6 linked regions of the Homo sapiens genome follow. The protein of the gene in region 1 purifies or fractionates together with the protein of each later gene. This does not show direct contact. Each region holds a gene or a part of one and is shown in the gene's direction. Other genes may lie near its edges. The genes, in order: SHCBP1, EOGT, MOV10, WDR11, RSF1 and MSANTD2.

What was found.
Region 2: the proteins of SHCBP1 (region 1) and EOGT purify together in Homo sapiens (affinity purification with western blotting; one study listed by BioGRID). This does not show direct contact.
Region 3: the proteins of SHCBP1 (region 1) and MOV10 purify together in Homo sapiens (affinity purification with mass spectrometry, with the first as the bait; one large-scale study listed by BioGRID). This does not show direct contact.
Region 4: the proteins of SHCBP1 (region 1) and WDR11 fractionate together in Homo sapiens (co-fractionation; one large-scale study listed by BioGRID). This does not show direct contact.
Region 5: the proteins of SHCBP1 (region 1) and RSF1 fractionate together in Homo sapiens (co-fractionation; one large-scale study listed by BioGRID). This does not show direct contact.
Region 6: the proteins of SHCBP1 (region 1) and MSANTD2 purify together in Homo sapiens (affinity purification with mass spectrometry, with the first as the bait; one large-scale study listed by BioGRID). This does not show direct contact.

Annotation. Positions count from the first base shown.
Region 1 is NC_000016.10:46,611,380-46,614,879, reverse strand, and holds part of SHCBP1 (SHC SH2 domain-binding protein 1), read left to right. Parts: intron 1-3,500. UniProt on the Homo sapiens protein: May play a role in signaling pathways governing cellular proliferation, cell growth and differentiation. May be a component of a novel signaling pathway downstream of Shc. Acts as a positive regulator of FGF signaling in neural progenitor cells.
Region 2 is NC_000003.12:69,000,185-69,003,684, reverse strand, and holds part of EOGT (EGF domain-specific O-linked N-acetylglucosamine transferase isoform a precursor), read left to right. Parts: intron 1-1,970; coding exon 1,971-2,077; intron 2,078-3,500.
Region 3 is NC_000001.11:112,677,659-112,681,158, forward strand, and holds part of MOV10 (helicase MOV-10), read left to right. Parts: intron 1-3,500.
Region 4 is NC_000010.11:120,864,862-120,868,361, forward strand, and holds part of WDR11 (WD repeat-containing protein 11), read left to right. Parts: intron 1-185; coding exon 186-351; intron 352-768; coding exon 769-883; intron 884-1,707; coding exon 1,708-1,903; intron 1,904-2,204; coding exon 2,205-2,308; intron 2,309-3,500. UniProt on the Homo sapiens protein: Involved in the Hedgehog (Hh) signaling pathway, is essential for normal ciliogenesis.
Region 5 is NC_000011.10:77,674,223-77,677,722, reverse strand, and holds part of RSF1 (remodeling and spacing factor 1), read left to right. Parts: intron 1-723; coding exon 724-931; intron 932-2,466; coding exon 2,467-2,687; intron 2,688-3,500. UniProt on the Homo sapiens protein: Regulatory subunit of the ATP-dependent RSF-1 and RSF-5 ISWI chromatin-remodeling complexes, which form ordered nucleosome arrays on chromatin and facilitate access to DNA during DNA-templated processes such as DNA replication, transcription, and repair.
Region 6 is NC_000011.10:124,769,407-124,772,906, reverse strand, and holds part of MSANTD2 (myb/SANT-like DNA-binding domain-containing protein 2), read left to right. Parts: intron 1-3,500.

The DNA of each region.
Region 1 (3,500 bases):
TCACAAATGTTAACAAAAGTAGGGGATTCTTAATTGGGTTTGTATATATTTATAAACTGACTTAAAAGTTGTGGATGTTAAGGCTTATGGTCGGTATATTTCAATACAAGAGTACAGAAAGTAGAAGAAGAGAAAGACAGTGAAGAAGGTTATATACTATGGTGTGTGTACTGCTAAAAGACGAATACACATTTTTTTCAAGCATATGTCTGGTCAAAGCAAGTGTTTTCTTAGGCTGCTTCTAGGATCCTTAGGGGATGTATTCCTGCCTGTGAGTCTTTTTTGCCATAGTTATTTCCACTGCACAAGTGGACCCCTTGTCCCTTCCTTGGGAAAGAAAGCCCATACCTGGATCAGTGGGTATGATTTCAACAATTTTTCAGATCAATCTTTTATTGGATAGTTCCTGATATAGATAGTTATTTTGTATCTTCGCCAAAGAAGGCTTACTTGTAGCTATTTAAAAATAGACCCATATTCCTTCAGGAACTAGAAGACTGAGCAATATATAATGACCATAATGTAAATAACATTGCTTGGTGTTTTGTAGTATAAAAAGTACTTTCTATTTTCTATACCATTAGTGAGTTAACGTGGTTTTGCTGAGCTTAACTCGAATGCTCTGCAAAGAAGCAGAGTGTTTCAGGCCCTGCTGCCAACATCTTACGGACAGTTTCTAATTGTATGCAAGAACATTTAACCCTAGATGTTCAGTATTGGGCCAAGCAGAATGAATCTAAAGAACCGGTTTCTGTCCAGAACCAAAATAACTCCCTTCTATTTTTCTCATTAAAAAAAATCTGTCAATTGAAGCATTTGAAGATAAAGTGATAACTGATAAGTTTAGGAAATTAGGAATCAGGGAGCTAATCTCTATGGGCATAGAAGTTCGTGGAAAAATAAGTATCTGGAATGTTATTTGGTAGTATTATTTGAGGAGGAGCCTGGTTAAATTTACACTTCATTTGGAGGGCTGAGATTTGGATCAGTGCCCAGTGAAGGTCAAATTATGAGGGATTTCATTTGTTCGTTGATTCAATGAATATTTGAGTGCCAGGTCCTTAGTCAAGGATGGGGTATGTCTGGTGCATGAGACACACCATCATCAGGGAGCTGTCAGTCTAAAGGTGGGAGATGAGCCTTGATGAAATAATCACGCACAGATGTCTGCATGATTGGAAATAGCAGTGAGTGCTGTGATGAATTACAGAGTGTCCTAAAATTAGGTCAAGTTGCTGTTCTAGGGTTATTTACTGGAATAATGACATTTGAACTTGGGTTAGCTGTGTGAAAGGGGAGGCAGGGGTGGGGAAGGGAAAAGATTTGGGAGCTCAGTGTGTTTAAGGAGCTGAAAGGCCAGCATGGCTGGAACACAGACAGTGCTGAGAGAGACCTAGGAAATGAGATTAGAGAGGCTGGCAGGGGCCAGACAGTGCGGGGATTTGTTAGCTGGTTAGTCATTTTTGTCTTTAAGAGCAGTGGGAAGCCACTGAAGGATTTTTATTCTTGGGTGAATATGACTAGTTTTGTGTTTTGTGTTTTTGTTTTTTTGGAAACACGGTATTATTCTGTTGCCTAGGCTGGAGTACAGTGGTGCAATCATGTGATTCAATGCAGGCTCGAACTGTGGGGCTCAAGGCATCCTCTTGCCTCAGCCTCTGGATCAGCTGGGATTATAGGCATGTGCCACCACTAGCCAGCTAGTTTTTTAACAACATTTTTCTGTAGAGATGGGGGTCTCGTTGTGTTGCCCAAGCTGGTCTCGAACTCCTGGGCTCAAGCAGTCCTCCCACCTCAGTCCCCTAAAGTGCTGCTTTGTGTTTTCAGGGGTTCATTGTGGCTTCTGTGTAGAAAACAAATGGTGGGAGATGGAATTGGTAGACCAGTTAAGACGCAAGAGAGAGGACTAGAGTGGGGATATAGAGAGGACGGATGGAGGCTTACTGAGAAAGTACAATGGCTGGACTTGGTGGTCGAGTGGATATCAGAGATGAGAAGATGTAAGTGAGGTGAGAGAAGTCAAGGCTGACTTCCACATTTCTGGCTTGAAAGAATCAACACTGCGGGAGGTACAGAAGGGAATGATGTGTAAATGCTTGGCATGGTACTGGTGAGGATGATATTGGAGCCGAGTCATGGAATAGAACTATAAGCTTACCAGGTGGAAAAGGTGGAAGGCACTTCTGGCAGCTTGACTAACAAGTTACATGGAGGTTTGAAAGAGCTTGTGAAATTGAGAGTTTAGGTACAACGGCTCTGAGGCAGGAGAGGCGCAATAGGGCCAGATTATGAATCTATTTATAGTACCACGTTCAGGACTTCTTTTTGAGGGCTAAAAGGGAGCCAGCAGAGGTTTTTTCAATCGAGTAGAGGCATGCTTAAGTTCATTACAACAACAACAACAACAACAACAAAAGACTCCACTAGAGGGTGAAGGGACTAACAGCCCAATCTACAATAATTAGGAGATGGCTGGTTTCATTTTCAGTGCTTCCTTTTCACAGCAGAACTTCTTGAAAGAGTTATATATAATCACAGTCTATACTTCCTGGTGTCTCAGTAACTCTTCTACCCTGACCTCATCTCTGAAATTATGCTCAAAGACTTCCATGTTCTTGTATTCAGTCAACGTTTCACTGATCTCATCCTGCCTCTGATCTCATCTTGCTTAACGTCTTGACATTCTAGGTATTTGATCATTCCCATCTTCTTCACACCCTCTCCTCTCAGCTTCTGGGACACCACTGTTCAGCTGGTGTCTTACTGGCTTGCTTTCTCAGTCATCTTGGCCAGCTTTTCCTCTCATGCTCAAACTTTAGAATGTCAGAGTTACCCAGGGATCAGTCCTAGGCCATCTACTGTTTTTTCCCTAATCAACCTTGGAACCACTTTGGAATCACCTGAGGAATTTCTTTATAAAAGTATTCCAACCAATACATGAAGAAAGTGATAGAATATCAGTATTTTGTAACCACTAATGAAATAAAGGTTCTAGACAGTGAACATCGATGACTGCTGCAACCATTAGGGAAAGAGAACTTTATAGAGGGTGGATCAGGTTGACAACCTGTATCTGTTGATCAATCTGAACCTCACAAAAAGACATGGCCAGGCATTGTAATAAAGTCCTCAGTTACTGTTGTTGGTAGGTTCTTAGAAACTGTGATGTTAATGAAACCAATTTTACCATAGGCTGACTGATATAAACAAAAGTTAAAGTTTCTACAGCATATTTCTGGTCATGAAAACATCATCAAACTTCTAAATAAAGACCCCAAACAATTCTAATCTTAAACATTGAAATAAATGTGAACTATATATACATTAAGAAATATTAATGCAAACAAGATAATTATTGACCCAATTTCCAATTTTTGGTGAAACAGTGAGTGACAGTGGTCATTGTGGTGACGAGTAAATCAAGGAATAAATGTTTGCAAAGCGGAAATTATAAGGAGCACCTCCTGCCATCACCCACTTCAAAACAATGACAAACATAG
Region 2 (3,500 bases), on another chromosome or scaffold:
AGCTTTTTGAATTTAAAAAGTTTGTATTTTAAAATAATTTTAGACTCATAGAAGTTTAAAAATAGTATGTATTATACCCAAGACTGACTAACTTACAAAGGAAAGAGGTTTAATGGACTCATGGTTCCTCATGGCTGGGGAGGCCTCACAATCATGGTAGAAGGCAAAGGAGGAACAAAGGCACGTCTTACATGACAGCAGACAAGAGAGCGTGTGCAGAGGGAACTGCCCTTTATAAAACTATCAGATCTTGAGAACAGCGCAGGAAAAACCCACCCCCATGATTCAGTTACCTCCCACCGGGTGCCTCCCATGATGGGAGCTACAATTCAAGATGAGATCTGGGTGGAGACACAGCCAAACCATATCATACTACAAGGAGAACTTGTACGTTGTCTAATTCCCTGAGCTTCCTCTAATGATAATATCTCATATAACCATGGCACAATGATCACAACCATGAAATTGACATTGGTACAGTAGTATTAACTTGTGCAGGTTTTACCAGCAATTACCTGTACTCATTAAAATTTTATCACTTGTGTAGGTGCGGGTATGTAGGTAGGGAGAGAGAGGGGGAGGAGGACGGGGAGGGCGACCACCACAATCAGGATGCAGAATTGTTCCATCATCCCAAAGAAACTCTCCTGCTACTCCTGTATAGTCACATAGGTTACTTACATAATGTTAATTTGTAAGGTCAAATGTCCATACCAAGGCCAGGAATGGCGGCTCATGCCTATAATCACAGCACTTTGGGAGGCCAAGGCAGAAGTATTACTTGAAGCCAGGAGTTCAAGACCAGCCTGAGCAACATGATGAGACCTCATCTCTAAAAAAGAAAAATAAAAAATAAAAATAAATTAGCTGGGCGAGATGGCATGCCCCTGTAATCCTAGCTACTTGGGAGGCTGAGGCGGGAGGACTGCTTGAGCTCAGGAGGTCGAGGCTGCAGTGAGCTATGATTGCACCACTGCACTCCAGCCTGGGCGATGGATCAAGACCCTGTCTCAAAAAAAAAAAGAAATTCATGCTGAGCAAACCTTTTTTTTTTTTGTCCTTAAAGAGGCCTCACTGCCTGGCTGCAGATCATTCAGAATAATGATCTACCACACATTTATCTGGGATTTTGCAGTCTGCAATGCAATGTCTCAAGTCACTTAGCAGACTTTTACAAGAGGTAGTTTCTATATTCAAGTGGGCTTTTTGATTCCTGGTACTTTCTGATATTTGATTCCACATGGTAGTTGCTCAGGGCATAATTGTATTAGTTGCTTATTGCTGTGTGACAGGCTATTCCAAAGTGTACCCTAGGGTATATTTATATTTATTACCTATTGTTGTATAACAAATGACTCTAAAATTTAGCAGCTTAAAATACAAACATTTATTATCTCACAGTACTTCTGAGGGTCAGGGTTTGGGAGCAGCTTGGCTGAGTTGGCCAGGGCTGTAGCCATCTCTAGACTCAACCTGGGCCTGGAGAATCTGCTGCTAAACTCACTCAGGTTGTTGTAAGCCTCGGCTCCTTTTGGCACCATCTCGGCTCACTGCAACCTCTGCCTCCCAGGTTCAAGCGATTCTCCTGCTTCGGGCTCCTGAAAATGGCTGGGACTAAAGGCGCTCGCCACTACGCCCAGCTAATTTTTGTATTTTTAGTAGAGATGGGGTTTCACCGTGTTGACCAGGATGGTCTTGATCTCCTGACCTCGTGATCTGACTGCCTCTGCCTCCCAAAGTGCTGGGATTACAGGTTTGAGCCACTGCACCCGGTCTGTTCCTTGTCTTAACATTAAAATTGATATCAACCTATATAAAAGTCAGTAAGTTTTAGAAGTTACAGGTGTCCATAGGAGTGTCTGTACCATTTAGAGGTAAAATCTGCCTAATGAACAGATCCTAAGTTACAGTGTTCTAATAGGAAGTTTGGGAGAATCAGTTTGAAGTCATGTCCCAATTCATAATTTCAGGTTTGCTGAGCTACAAAGCTATACTCAGCTCAACTTCAGACCTATAGAAGATGCTAAATGTGACATTGTCATTGAAAAACCAACATATTTCATGAAATTAGATGCAGGTGAGAAATAACTTTTTCTGTTATTTGTGTATTTGTTAATGAGATATTATTCCTTTTTTTGGATGTAGTAATTCTCTCTGAATTTTTTGGAAGCAGTATGACAAACAGTAGATTTGTTTTTTTTGCTTTCTTCTCTGAAGAAGTAGTTGAACTAATTTGAACTTCCCATTATTTTATAACTTGGGCATTTTAGAAGAAACTTTCACATTTATATCAAAGGACTTAACCAAAATCAAAGGACGAGAGGTGAAGGCATATTTATGCCTTTTGTAACTAAATTTACCTCATCTGGTTTCTCTAATCACTTGGTTTAGATTGTCTTTCATTAAGATGTTTAAAATCAAAAGCTAAGCCGGGCGCGGTGGCTCACACCTGTAATCCCAGCACTGTGGGAGGCCGAGGCAGGCAGATCACGAGGTCAGGAGATCGAGACCATCCTGGCCAACATGGTGAAACCTCGTCTCTACTAAAAAAACACAAAAAATTAGCTGGGCGTGGTGGCAGGCACCTATAGTCCCAGCTACTCGGGAGGTTGAAGCGGGGGAATCGCTTGAACCCAGGAGGCAGAGGTTGCAGTGAGCCAAGATCGTGCCGCTGCACTCCAGCCTGGTGACAGAGCAAGACTCCGTCTTAAAAAAAAAAAAAAAAAATCAAAAGCCATGTGTATAGTATGGGTGGGAAAGAAGTGTCCATGACCTGCGCTGACAAACTTTCTGTATCATTTCCATGACTAAAGTGAACTTAAAATTCTTCTGGAAGTTACCAGTGTAATTTATTCTTGACATAAAATTAAAATTATTTTATCATTTATACTTATAGCCTCTTTCTCAGCTTGCAAGCAGAGCTTTAACTTTGCGAACTAGTTACACTGGGGAGGAGAAACACAGATTGTACTATATTATCTCTTTCATTATGAGAGACAGGGATTACTGTGCTAGATCATATCAAAATTCATGAGAGGTTGGGTTTACAGTGAAATATAGAGAGCCTCTGTCACAAATATTTCAGAATTAGTATAATTTATTGATCATAGTTTTAATGTGCTCTGCCTTCTGAAGTCATAGTTCTTATATTACAAAGTATTAAATTCAGAAATCAGACAAGTTTAGGTTTTTGAAATAAAAGCGAGTAAAAATGCTATGTTCCAGGTTTTGACTCGTTTTTAAAACATGCAAATTAAAAAGGGGCAAAGAAAACACTGATCCGTCTGTAAAAGTGGCAAATATGTGTGAGCTATTAAATTTATGCAGATACTTATACAATAAAGTATATAAAGTGAGAATAATAGGCTAGAGTAGACATGTCTCATTTCTTTCCTATATTCATAACTCTACTTTTTTCTTCTAATTTATGCTGTCTTCCAATTTTACTTTTCTTTCTTTAGAGACAGGTCTTGCTCTGTTGCCCAGGCTGGAGTACAGTG
Region 3 (3,500 bases), on another chromosome or scaffold:
CTGTCTGCAGTCCCCAGCATAGAGCTTTGTATGTAGTAGATGCTCAATAAATGCTTGCAGAATCTAAGTGAACTAGCAACTAGAGTTAACTAACAAGAGAATGGGCCATATAGCGGGGGGTATAGCAAGTCACACTCTTTAGGAATTCTAGGAGATTCCTACACTGAGAGGGGATAGGTCTCTCCAGCTAGGTTATTTTATGATGTTATAAAGTGCTCTGCTCTGAACTCTTGCCTTTTCCCACCTACCTTTATTCATTTAGCAAATATAGTTAATGAGGCTCTACTGTGTGCCTGTGCCTTGGTCCTTGCCTCCAAAGAATATAATCTAGTAAAGAGCAGCAGATATGTGTAGACAAACAAATGCAATACAGTAGTATAGGTGCTAGTAATGGTGTTTAGATAGCCCTGCCATTTAGTGGTTGCATTTAACTTTGAACAACTCTCTAAATTTTCCATTTCCCCAACTGTAAGAGTATGTAAAATAGTACCTTTCTCTCGGGGTTGTGAGAGACCAAAATGAGTTGTCCTAGGCAAAGCATTTGTGTGGCTAGCATATTACACTGGCTTTGTTAAGTGGTACCCCTCATTAGTGCGATGATGATTAGGAGTCCATTGTATGGGGTAAGGACTGATGTCACGAAAAGGTTTCTGAGAGAAGATGATTCTTGCTTTGGACAGGAGACTCATTCTTCTACAAGTACTGGCTGAGTGCTTCCTATGAATGGCAAAGCAAAAGTGAGTTGCTAGAAATATACAAAAGGAACCCAACTAACTAAGGAAGGAGGCAGCAGTTAGATAATTATTTAATTACGGTTGTGATGAGTGCTTGTACAGAAAAGTCCAGTATGCATTGAGAGTATATAATTTGGAGATCTGTCCTAGTCTAGCAACCTAGACTAGATCAAGAAACTTAGGCAGAGGTTTCTTGGGGAAAGTGATATTTGAGTAGAATCTTGAAGGATTAATGGGACTTAGAAGGTGTAAAGGGCAAGGGTAGAGTGTACAGGCAGGAACAGCACCTTCAAAGGCTTGGGATGACCTCAGAAGAACGGGAGACCAGCAGGGCCCTGGGTAGGCATTGTGAGGTGTTTTGTTTTGTCTTTAATCTTAATGGAAATAGGAAAACACAGAAAATTTCAAAGTAAGAGTCTGACGTAATCAGATTTAGAAAGATCATTCTGGCTTCTGGCGTGGAGAGTGGCTTGGTGGTTGGACCTCTACCCACAGTAAAAAACACATTTTACTTTGGGACCTGGCATACACAACCTTCACAAAACAATGCCTGCCCTTGAAACAATACATAGTTTCACTCCCTGCTCTCTGATATTTTTTATTCTATTTTATTTCAATTTTATAAAAACCCTGGCTTTGACCCGCTAATGGGAGTTGGAATCCATAGTCTATAGATTGTGAAACTAGATGTCTCTTTAAGATCACTTCCAAATCTGATCATATGTGCTGAAATACCATTCCTCTAGCTTTTGGCCTTTCCTGAACTGGGTCTAAAAAGATTAGCCATTGTTCACCCAACAAACAGCAGGGGCGGCCTAAGGCAGGGCAGTGCAGGCTAAGGATGTCCACAGCACAGAAGTCTGCAGAGGGGCACAGTGATACAAGTAGTTGGGAATGGCTGAAATAAGGATGGATTGACAAGAGGCCAAGTGTGGTTGAGGATGTGTACCTCAATTTCTTTTTCTCTAAAATGGGATGATAATAATTACTACCTCAAAGGGTTGTTTTGAGGATTGAATGAGATAATGCATTCAGGAAACGTTTTCTGTTGATGTTATTGTATTTGCATTATCGTTGTTACTATGGAGGATCTTGGAAGGTGCCATATTAAAGACTTAATTTTGTGGACTATGGAGTTGTAAATTGAGGGAACAAGATCAGATTTGTGTTTGATGACAATTCTGCAGATATAGGGGGTGGCCTAGTGTAGGGGTATGAAGCCAGAGGTAGGGAGAACAGTTAACTGGAACCTAGAAAATTGAGCAAGGGGTATGATCAGGCAGCTCACAGAAGAAATATAAATGACTAATAAAAGAAGGAAAGATCCTTGACTATATTGGTGATCAGAGAAATGCACAGTTTAAAAAGATAGGAGTTTTTGTAATCAAATTGTCAAAAATTTAAAACATTGAAAATTTCTGATGTTAGAGCTTTGGGAAAAGGGCATTTTCTAACTCTTGTTAGTGAGAACATAAATTTGTACAACCTGTTTAAAGGACAATTTGGCAGAACTTATCAAAGTTGTAAAGGTTCATTCTCTTTGACCCAGGTGTTGTACTTTAAGGAATTTATCCCATTAGACTTGCCTACAAGTACAAGGGTTTGTGTGCAAGGATAGTTATTGTAACATTAGGAGTAGCCAGAAATTTCAGGCAGCTTGTCTATCACTAGAGAAAAAAACACACCATGATGCATTCATACATGCTATCTTTTGTAGCCATTCAAAAGGTCATGGTGGTTCTGTAAAGCATTGTTATGGGAGAAGATCCATGGTGGGAAGACGCCTGCTGCAGAATAGTATGTGTAGCATGTATCATCTCATTATTGTGTTTTATATGCATAGAAAAAAATCAGGAAAAACATACATCAAATAGTGGGTTTAATTAATTGCTCCTAATCAAGCAAGTAGTTGGAAGCAAGGGAATTAAGGGCTTTAATGTTTTATGTTAGATACTTGTTTAAATGTTTTAAAAATACTTTTGGGCCGGGCGCGGTGGCTCACGCCTGTAATCCCAGCACTTTGGGAGGCAGAGGTGGGCGGATCACGAGGTCAGGAGATCGAGACCATCCTGGCTAACACGGTGAAACCCCATCTCTACTAAAAATACAAAAAATTAGCTGGGCGTGGTGGCGGGCGCCTGTAGTCCCAGCTACTCAGGAGGCTGAGGCAGGAGAATGGCCTGAACCCGGGAGGCGGAGCTTGCAGTGAGCCGAGATTGTACCACTGCACTCCAGCCTGGGCGACAGAGTGAGACTCCGTCTCAAAAAAAAAAAAAAAAAAAAAAACTTTTGGTGATCACCTTTTCATTTATCTCTTTTTTTTTTTTTTTTTTTAAATCTCTCTCTGTCACTTAGGCTGGAGTGCAGTGGCACGATCTCAGCACACTGCAACCTCCACCTCTCGGGTTCAAGCAATTCTCCTGCCTCAGCCTCCCACGTAGGTGGGATTACAGGCGTGAACCACCATGCCTGGCTAATTTTTGTATTTTTAGTAGAGACGAGGTTTCACCATATTGGTCAGGCTGGTCTTGAATTCCTAACCTCAGGTGATCACCTGCCTTGACCTCCCAAAGTGCTGGGATTACAGGCGTGAGCTACTGCACCCGGTTCATTTATCTCTTTTTGCAGGCATGCTTATATCACACCTACATAAGTTTACACACGTGGGATCATTATCACATATCATTTTTATTGTGGACCCCTCCCCTTATGGGCATCCAACCTCCATTTCCACATTCCGCCCTGTACTCAGGTACCTCTTGATAT
Region 4 (3,500 bases), on another chromosome or scaffold:
ATTAGCATTTGGATTTTGGTACATAGTAGAGATCTAAGTTTTGGATGCCAACCCATGTTGGTCACTTCAGGGAATAGTTGTACATTTTTATTGTCAATTTTTATGTGTAAAGTACAAAATTAAATCTTTTATTAGGTCTGATATAAATGAAGTCTTTGACCCAAGTGAATGTTTACTTTTTTCAGTGCTGAATTCATAACTCTCAATGATTGCCTTCAGTTGGCATACCTGCCTTCAAAAAGGAATCACATGTTGTTGCTCTATCCTCGAGAGATTTTAATCCTTGACCTTGAGGTGAATCAGACGGTGGGTGTGATTGCAATAGAACGCACAGGAGTTCCATTTTTACAGGTATCTACAATTCATAAATTATATTCCCCAAAATTATTAAGAATGTTATATTAAAAGAAGGCCATAATCTTGCATAAGTCTTGTCTTCAGTTCTCCACTTTCTCTTTTCAATTTATCAAAAGACTAGCAACACTATTTTAGATTGTTTTTTTTGTCTGCACTTTTGATTGGTTTGATTTACCCTAGAAATTGTGACTGATCCTGAGATATTTATTGAACTATTTAAGTCACATGGGTAAAGACAAATTATTTTAGGATTATAAATGGATATTTTAAATGTACATTTAGTTTTAAAGTTTGGGATTTGTCTATTTTTTTTTCTTTTGCCCATATTATCTAAATATGAGTTTGAGTTTCACAGTATATACTTTATTAATCTATTGTGTTTTAAAAAATAAATATATCATCTATTTAAAGGTAATACCCTGCTTTCAGCGTGATGGTTTATTTTGTCTACATGAAAATGGTTGTATAACTTTACGTGTTCGAAGATCTTATAATAACATTTTTACCACTTCAAATGAGGAACCAGGTGAGTTTCTGTCTCACAATAATGTTATATTTTTCTTCAAAATTATTTTATAAAGCTTGATGTGGCAAATACCAGCCAAGGTATATAGTTAATGATACTCCTTGCTTTGAGGAAGTTTAAAATATGGTTATAATAAGAGGCATAAAAAGTATAAGCCCAAGATTAATCTCTTGATGTTAAAACAGTGCACCTCCTGTATACATCAAAGAGAGTAAAATTTTGTGTTTCTTGATCATATCCATGAGCCAAGTAGATATTATTTTTTGGAATTTTTTTTTTTTTTCAGTACAAGTCCAACCTTGTGTGCCTTTATTATTATACCCCCTTGACTTGTTGGCTGTAAGAACTTCCATTGTAAAGTGACAGAGGTTATTAAGTCTCAGTTGTCAAGTCAGTCTTATCTTGGAGAATGGAAATAATGTTTTTGTGAAATTATATACTGTGTAAAGATCAAAGTGATTTTCACATCTTTTGGAAAGTACAGTTATTTTCAGGCTTATAGACTACTACAAATTATGATGGAAATTTATTCATTAATTATATATCACTGTTGATCCTTTTTCAAAGTATCGTCTTTATTTTAAAATATTGAAAAAAGATATCTTGATTATAGTTGTTATTTTGGAAATTAAACTTAGTACAGTCATTAAGTAAATTATATTTGGAAAAAATTTAGTAGTAATTGTAAAAAGTGAAGCCATGCTTGACATTGCATTCATGAAGGAGTGATGCCCAAATTTAGTTGAGGTTTTATTTAAATTGAAACAAACAGTAGTGGTATCGATATGGCTGCTTTCTGATATTTAAAACAATTTTATGTGAAGATCCAGATCCAGTTCAGGAGCTTACCTATGATTTACGAAGCCAGTGTGATGCAATCAGGGTGACAAAAACCGTCCGTCCCTTCAGTATGGTGTGCTGTCCTGTCAATGAGAATGCAGCCGCCCTCGTAGTGAGTGATGGCAGGGTCATGATATGGGAACTCAAGTCTGCAGTTTGTAATCGAAATTCACGGAACAGGTAAATGAATCAACAGGATCATGGTTTTGTTTTTTGTTTCCTGTTTCCTTTTATAAAAAATTTCCATAATCATAAAAATAGGAGGGCTGGTTTTCTATAAAAATATTTTTAAGGTAATAATTAAGGCTTTAGATTATTAGGGAATTATGTAAATCTGCTAGAGCTATTTCACCTATGGGTAAGATGAATGAATAATATAAAAATAGATAGAATGCCATAATCTGGACTTAATACTTTGAATTCCTAATACGTAATGCAGATTTTAAGTATGTAAAACCTTCTAATTATTATGTCTTTGCAGTAGTTCTGGTGTGTCACCTTTATATTCACCAGTGTCTTTCTGTGGAATTCCTGTAGGAGTGCTACAGAATAAACTCCCAGACCTTTCCTTAGATAACATGATTGGTAAGCTTTTTTCCCCTCTAACTCCATGTTAAGTATTCTTTCTGAAGGGCAAAATTAATAGAATCACTCACTTGTAATTATTTTAAAGTCAAAAAAGTTAATACTTGAGAAAACTAGAACATGGAATCATTCTTTCCTAAATAAATCAGAGGGGTTTAAAATACTTAGGTAGAAAAGTGCCTGAAGTAGCACGGGTTTGCATTATAGTTGTTAGAAATAGAAAACGTTCATTCGTGAGAGACTGATGTAAATGAAAGCAATGACATTAGGCATCTGGATTTTGGACCTAGAGCCGATGCTGAGCTATGCCATGCCAACTCAGGGCCTTGCTGTTTGCTGGTTCCTCAGCTTGGAATGAAGTACATGCTTCCTTTCTGTCTGCTACTCCTAATTCAAAATTCAACTCAGATGTTGTTTTCTTTAATCTCCCAAGTCTAATTTAAATGCTCTTCTTTTGTTTTTCCTAACAGTTATCAGCATATTTTAATTGTGGGTTTTTTTCTTCTGTTTCATCTCATCAATTGTAAGCATCACAAGGGTGGTACAGTGTTTGATTCTATTTTGTCTTTCCCAGCACTCAGCACAGTACCTTGTGCATGCCTGTTTTGTAGTAAATATTTACTGAAGGAATAAAGTAACTGAGCAGTATTAGAAAAGATTATTTTAACTTTTTGACATGAATTATTTTTATGTTGGGGATTCTTTCAAAAAATCATTTTTGGAGATAAAGTGTTCAAAGTTATTTAATTATGAGGCCAGTATGTATTAAAGGAAGAATGAGAGTTTGTGATTTCAAATTTTATGCTACTTGAAATTATAAGGCTTTGTAAATATGCCAAGCAATTTGGACATCTAATTTTTTTACAGTTGTGGCTATGGTTTATAAAGGATTTTCTGTTTTATTATTTATTCTACCATAATATAATTGAAAACGATATTATTTAGGAGGGTTTTTTTGTTGTTGTTGAAACGCTAAATAAGTGATGCACTAGAAAGAGCATTGGCCAGGCGCAGTGACTCACGCCTGTAATCCCAACACTTTTGGAGGCCGAGGCGGGAGGATCACTTGAGGTCAGGAGTTCGAGACCAGCCTGGCCAACATAGTGAAACCCTGTCTCTACTAAAAATATAAGAATTAGCCAGGTGCAGTGGCATGTGCTTGTGGTCCCAGCTACTTAGGGGGCTGAGGCAG
Region 5 (3,500 bases), on another chromosome or scaffold:
CAAAAATTTTTAAGTTAACCTATTAAAAATTGGTTTCTTAATTTCATAGTCTTTAGTAAGTGGCATTAAAATAGAAGAACTTGAAGGTAATTTAATTAAAGCACTATTAGCCAATGCTCCAATATGGAACATTCTGGTTTCTACTTAGTTATTATGAAAACTCTGGAAAAGATTAATAAGTAGATTGTTTAAGGCTTTTCCAGAGATGTATGTTTTATTTACATTTTTGCTGCTGAATTCTCACTTTTTCTGTCCTGCAAACACTGTTTTTAAAAACTCTATTGGCCTCTTTCTAAAGCCTTGTCCAAAAGACAGCTTTCAAGAAGAGATTCTTGAGTGACTGCTCATAGGTATGAGGTTTCTTTTTTGGGTGATGAAAATGTTCTGGAGTTAGGTAGTGGTGATGGTTGCACAACTTTGTGACTATACTAAAAATGTCTGAATTGTACACTTTAAGAGGGTGAATATTGCGGTGTGTGAATTATATAAAAATTTAAAAAACGAGGTTCCCTACATAGTAAACTTCTCTTCAGTAGGGTAAACGAATGCTAAAACTCTGAGACCTCTGTCAGCTGAAGTCATAAGAAAACTGCATATTTGTTGGAAGAAAATAAAGAAATGAAGAGCTGCTAAGCATGAATAAGGACTGTCTCTAGAAATTAAAGGGAAGCTTTTAATAAACACATATTTTTCTCTCCCCGAACTTCCCTCCCCCAAATTCAGGAGTTGGCCGAGGAAAAGATATCTCCACCATCACAGGTCATCGTGGGAAAGACATCTCTACTATTTTGGATGAAGAAAGAAAAGAAAATAAACGACCCCAGAGGGCAGCTGCTGCTCGAAGGAAGAAACGCCGGCGATTAAATGATCTGGACAGTGATAGCAACCTGGATGAAGAAGAGAGCGAGGATGAATTCAAGATCAGTGATGGGTGTGTGGTCTCCTACTAGGCCCCGATCCCTAGATACCAGCAGGAACAGGACTGGGCTAGCAGAGAGGCTTGCCCATGCTGTGATGAGGGTTTTCTTCTTCATGTACATAGACAACCTCTGTTTATTTTCAGGATATTTAAAGCAGATTCAAGAATACTAATTTTGGCCCATTTTTAAAGTTTAGAACAGAAAATAGATTTATGGTTGTTTAACATTCAAAATTGTATTTAAATTTTACTAACTACAATTAAACTTTCATTTGTTGAGAGCTTTCTCTGTACCTCTGTGCCACCTTCTGCCAGGTCCATGAGGGGTTTCCAGTCCTATGTGAAAAATAAATAAGATATTATCCTCTCATGACTCATAGAAGTTGGACTTGGGACTGGTAATCCAGTATAGAAGATCAAGAAAGGCTTCTTTGCAGAGTTGGAATTGAAACAATACTGCAGAGTTTCTCCTTTCAGATTATTAGAAGAGGAAACAAGTATATAAACCACAAAAAAAAAAAAAAGTCATTCTGCATAACTGCTACTAAAATACAGGGAAAGATAAATTAGGCTACAGAGGAAAGTTGGCTTAATCCAAAGAGTAAACCTTAAAGTAGAAGTAAAGCTTGATCTGAAATTTGAAGAATGAGTATTTGGAATCAACAAGTATGAGACTAAAAGCAGGATAAGAAAAAGGTATTCTAAGCATAGAAGTCACATGTCCAAGACAGCAAGCCGTAAAATGTCATAGAATGTTTGGGAAACTCCTGTTGGCTCTGGATAGCAGGAATAAGGGGATGAAGTAGAGAGTGCCCTACTGGAGATGTGGTCAAGTGATAAAAAGAGCCAGATTAGGGAGTGTTTTATTTGTCATGCATAAGTGTTTTGACTTTATCCTGAAAATTATACAAAACCAGTGAAGGGTTTTAAACACTAAATTAATATGAGATTTATGCTTCAGAAAGATTCATCCTGGCATTCATTTGGAGGATAGATTGAGGGGAAATGAGACCAGATATTAGAGAAACTATTTGTGGAGTTGCTTTTGTAGTTAAGGTGAGTATGAAAAGCTGAAAACAGAAGAGATCAGGTTTGAGAGATTATCTTTTAAGAGGTAGACTCTAGAGAAATTATTAATTTATTGGATATGAGAAATGAAAAGGGGAAAGTTAGGATAAATACCACGTTTCTGGTTGGAGTTACCGGATGAGTGATGGTGCCAAATACCAGGCCAGGGAACAGAAGAGAGAAGTAGATTGGGAAATAATGAATTCACTTTTGAATATGTCGAATTTAACATGGGGGACATCCCAAGAGGTCAAAGCAGTACAGAAATCAACATTAATTCATCTTTACAACCCCTCCTAAGAGGATAGGTGGCAAAACATTTTCCCCATTTTATAAATAGGGCATTTGATACAATTATCCAGATATGTTGCACTATACTTAATGATTCACTGGGCTCACCAGAATTTGAACTCAGAACTCTTAAAAATGGGTTCACTCTTCTAAATACCATTGTATTTTATCTGATTTCTCTTGGACAGATCTCAAGATGAGTTTGTTGTGTCTGATGAAAACCCAGATGAAAGTGAAGAAGATCCGCCATCTAATGATGACAGTGACACTGACTTTTGTAGCCGTAGACTGAGGCGACACCCCTCTCGGCCAATGAGGCAGAGCAGGCGTTTGCGAAGAAAGACCCCAAAGAAAAAATATTCCGATGATGATGAAGAGGAGGAATCTGAGGAGAATAGTAGAGACTCTGGTAAAAATAATCTGTAACCATATGGTAGCTCAATAAATTATTTTTTGTTTTTCTTGTTGCTCATGCTGGAGTGCAATGGCACCATCTCGGCTCACTGCAACCTCTGTGTCCCGGGTTCAAGCGATTCTCCTACCTCAGCCTCCCAAGTAGCTGGGATTACAGGCATGTGCCACCATGCCTGGCTAATTTTGTATTTTTAGTAGAGAGGGAGTTTCTCCATGTTGGCCAGGCTGGTCTCAAACTCCCGACCTCAGGTGATCTGCCCACCTCAGCCTCCCAAAGTGCTGGGATTACAGGCGTGAGCCAGCACGCTGGCCAGCTCAACAAATTCTTATGACTTCTGGAGTTAAGAGTTCTTAAAATTCTGTTCTTAAGACTTATTTCTGACTAAATTTTTCTCATAGAAAGCACATCTGAGAAAATACATACTGATTGATACGTTAACTTCATATCAGATGCCTAGTAGGATTGTGATGACTCCTTGGTTGTCAAATGTTTCCACTCCTAAACCTTCATCTTCATAGGGTTTCTTGGAAATCATTCTCAATAAACTGTGAACATTTCCCTCAGATGCCCAGCTGTTGGAGAGAGAAGAATACAAGTTAACTCTCATTTAGACCACAGTCAGTGTTGAGTAGTTTTTACAGATTAACAGTAGTTGATGTTGTTATAGAGTATGCTTATCCCTATTAAGTGAGTAAATAGAGGCTCAACCGCTACAAGAAATGAATGCTTTATGTAATTGGCAAATTGATAGGTGTCATCTTATTAGAGAAGAACCATAGATATGAGTATCAGACTCTGGCCATCCTT
Region 6 (3,500 bases), on another chromosome or scaffold:
GAAAGTTCCGGCCATTCACCAAGGAGGCATGTCTATTCATTCTTTAGATTTAATCAGGGACTCACTTAAAGCTATTAGAAAGCATCACAAACATAGCATCACTGGTAATTCCAGGAACTGTGATGTCTATACGTTCTTTTTTTTTTTTTTTTTTTTTTTTTTTTGAGACGGAATCTCGCTCTCGCTCTGTCACCCAGGCTGGTGTGCAGTGGTGCAATCTCTGCTCACTGCAAGCTCTGCCTCCCAGGTTCACGCCATTCTCCTGCCTCAGCCTCCAGCGTAGCTGGGACTACAGGCGCCCGCCACCACGCCCGGCTAATTTTTTGTACATTTAGTAGAGATGGGGTTTCATCGTGTTAGCCAGGATTATCTCGATCTCCTGACCTGGTGATCCGCCCACCTCAGCCTCCCAAAGTGCTGGGATTACAGGCGCGAGCCACCGCACCCAGCCAGATGTCTATACGTTCTTTCGTATCTTAGCTTAACCCTTCCAGTGATTATCTAAAATGTTGAGAATTTTGTATAGAAGAAATAAATGTGTTACAGGAAAACAGATGTGTTTTTGGTATTTGCCTGTGTGTGGATGTGGACATCTGGATGTTTAATTAAGGCACAAAGATGAGTCACAGGAACCTGAGTTTATCTGAGGTTAGGTGAAATGATAGGCGGACCAGAGGGACACCTGAAGTATTTTGGGAATCAAAAAGAAAGCTCTTAGATGACCTATTATACATTTGGAGAAGAAAGCAGTTGCTAGAGGAAAGACTAAGAAAGTCCAGGGACAGAGTCCTCCCTGGTCCATACAATTTGATCTTCCCCGAGTTTAGCATTATCTTTTGTGCAAGGACATCATAGTTCTTGGAATTACCAGTGACATCATATTTGTGGTTCTTTTTAATAGCTTTAAGTGAGTCCCTGATTAAATACAATTACTGAGGAGAATATACTGACCGAAAATTTATGGGGAAAGTAAGGAACGCCATTCATTTTTTTTACCTGTTAACCTTGGAGCATTGATAGCACCCACTTATTCTTGAGTGCTTCATCCCACACATGTGATCTTGATGTCTGAGAGATGGTAGAGAAGAGGCAAAAAGGGCTGTGATAGGTAACAGGCAGCACAACAAGAAAACATTAGTTGTTTTTTGTTTTGTTTGTTTGTTTGAGACAGAGTCTTACTCCATCACCCAGGCTGGAGCGCAGTGGTGCAATCTTGGCTCACTGTGAGCACCTGTAATTCCAGCCCGAGTAGGTGGGACTACAGGCGCGTCACCATGCCTGGCTAATTTTCGTATTTTTAGTAGAGATGGGGTTTTGCCGTGTTGGCCAGGTTGATCTCGAACTCCTGACCTCAAGTAATCCACCTGTCTAGGCCTCCCAAAGTGTTGGGATTACAGGCGTGAGCCACAGTGTCCGGCCACATTAGTTGTTTTTATTCAGCAAGACACCACTACCACCTCCCCTTTGTAAATGCTCATTTCTTTTTCAGAGTCTCTCTTTGGAATCAAAGAATTCCCATTGTCATCTGATTCCATGTCTGGAAAGAGGGTGAGAGTTCAGGGATGAGGAGTTTTTCCCCCAAATTGTAGCCATTATTTCATTCCTCAAAAAAGAAGCTAATCGCCCACATCAGTAAGTTTAAGGCCATTTCTTATTGGGAAGTAGTTGTCTTTTAGGAGTGTGACATCAAAGTGTACCAAAGGAAGGGAAACTGATTAATGTTGTAAAAAGTAAGTTGGGCGTGGTGACTCATGCTCACGCCTTTAATCCCAGCACTTTGGGAGGCCAAGGTGGGTGGATCGCTTGAGGTCAGGAGTTTGAGAGCAGCCTGTCCAACATGGTGAAACCCTGTCTCTACTAAAAATACAAAAATTAGGCTGGGTGCAGTGGCTCATGCCGGTAATTGCAGCACTTTGGGATGCCAGTGCAGGCAGATCACGAGGTCAGGAGTTCAAGCCCAGCCTGGCCAACATAGTGAAACCCTGTCTCTACTAAAAATACAAAAAATTAGCCAGGGATGGTAGCGGGTGCCTGTAATCCCAGCTACTTGGGAGGCTGAGGCAAGAGAATTGCTTGAACCCAGGACACGCAGGTGCAAGACTCTGTCTCAAAAAAAAAAAAAAAAACCAAAAAATTAGCTGGGCGTGGTGGCACACACCTGTAATCCCAGCTACTCGGGAGGCTGAGGCACAAGAATTGCTTGAACCCAAAAGGCAAAGGTTGCAGTGAGCCGAGATGGTGCCACTGCACTCCAGCCTGGATAACAGAGTAAGACTCTGTCTCGAAAAAAAAATGTGAGTTATTACAAGGCAAAGCGCGGTGGCTCATGTCTGTAATCCCAGCATCCTGGGCGGCCAAGGCGGGAGGATTGCTTGAGCCCAGGAATTAAAAACCAGTCTGGGCAACATAGCTAGACTCTCATCTCCACAAAAATTTTTAAAATTCACTGGGTATAGTGGCATATGCCTGTAGTCCCAGCTACTCAGAAGGCTGAGGTGGGGGGTTACTTGAGTCTGGGAGGTCAAAGCTCCAGTGAGTCATGCATTCCAGCCTGGGTGACAGAGCAAGATCCTGTCTCCAAAAAAAAAAAAACAAACAAACAAAAAAAAAGAGTTATTACAAATGTATACCTTCAAACCTTTATTCTCCAAAAAAGTCACTGGCTTTTTCATTAAAGTGTCCTATCTCTTCCTTATAATCATTCAGGACCTTCAAGGGAGGCCCAGTTGGTATAACTAGGAATGAACTCAAATTTTATGGATTTCATGTCACCAATCTCAAACCACTTAAACTTTTCTGGTGATTGGAACTTCAAAAACCAGGAAATCTAACAGACAGTTCTCAGGAATTGTTTAAATAACTGAGTCTAGTTTTCATTGTGCTCCAGAGCTTTGAAATGCTGGTTTGAATCTTGAGCCCAAATCAGCTTCAGGCTCATATCAGCAGGGCAGGAAACTGACAGACTCTGAGGAAATATCCAGCCTGTGCTGCCTCTCCTCCAGGTTTTAGCTCTCAGGGTGAGAGATTCTGAACAAGATCTGGGTAGGCCATTTATTTTCCAGTGCAAGAGTTTATTTAAAATGGTTCTTTGCAGGGTCTGACTATAGCATTAGTGCCATGACAATGCTGAAAAAAATAACGTGATTTGGGCATGGGATTTCTTTTTCTCTGTAGGTATAGGTGGGATTAGCTGAACCTGGCTAATCCCCTAGTCTGCTCATTTATTCAACACACGTTTCTCAAGTGCCTACTATATGTCAGGCATTGGGATACTTCATTGAGCATAATAGACAAAAATCTCTGCTCTCCATCCCAACTCCTTAGCATAGTCCTCTGTAAGATCAATAAAACATTTCAAAGGAGGGCAGGGAAAGATGGTAGCTATGAAAGATAATTTTCCTTTAAAGCATCGACCTATGCAGAAATATGGTCTATGTCTTAGCCTCATAAGCACCACAATCAGACATCATAAAATTGACCAAGTGCTTTTGTCTCCTCTG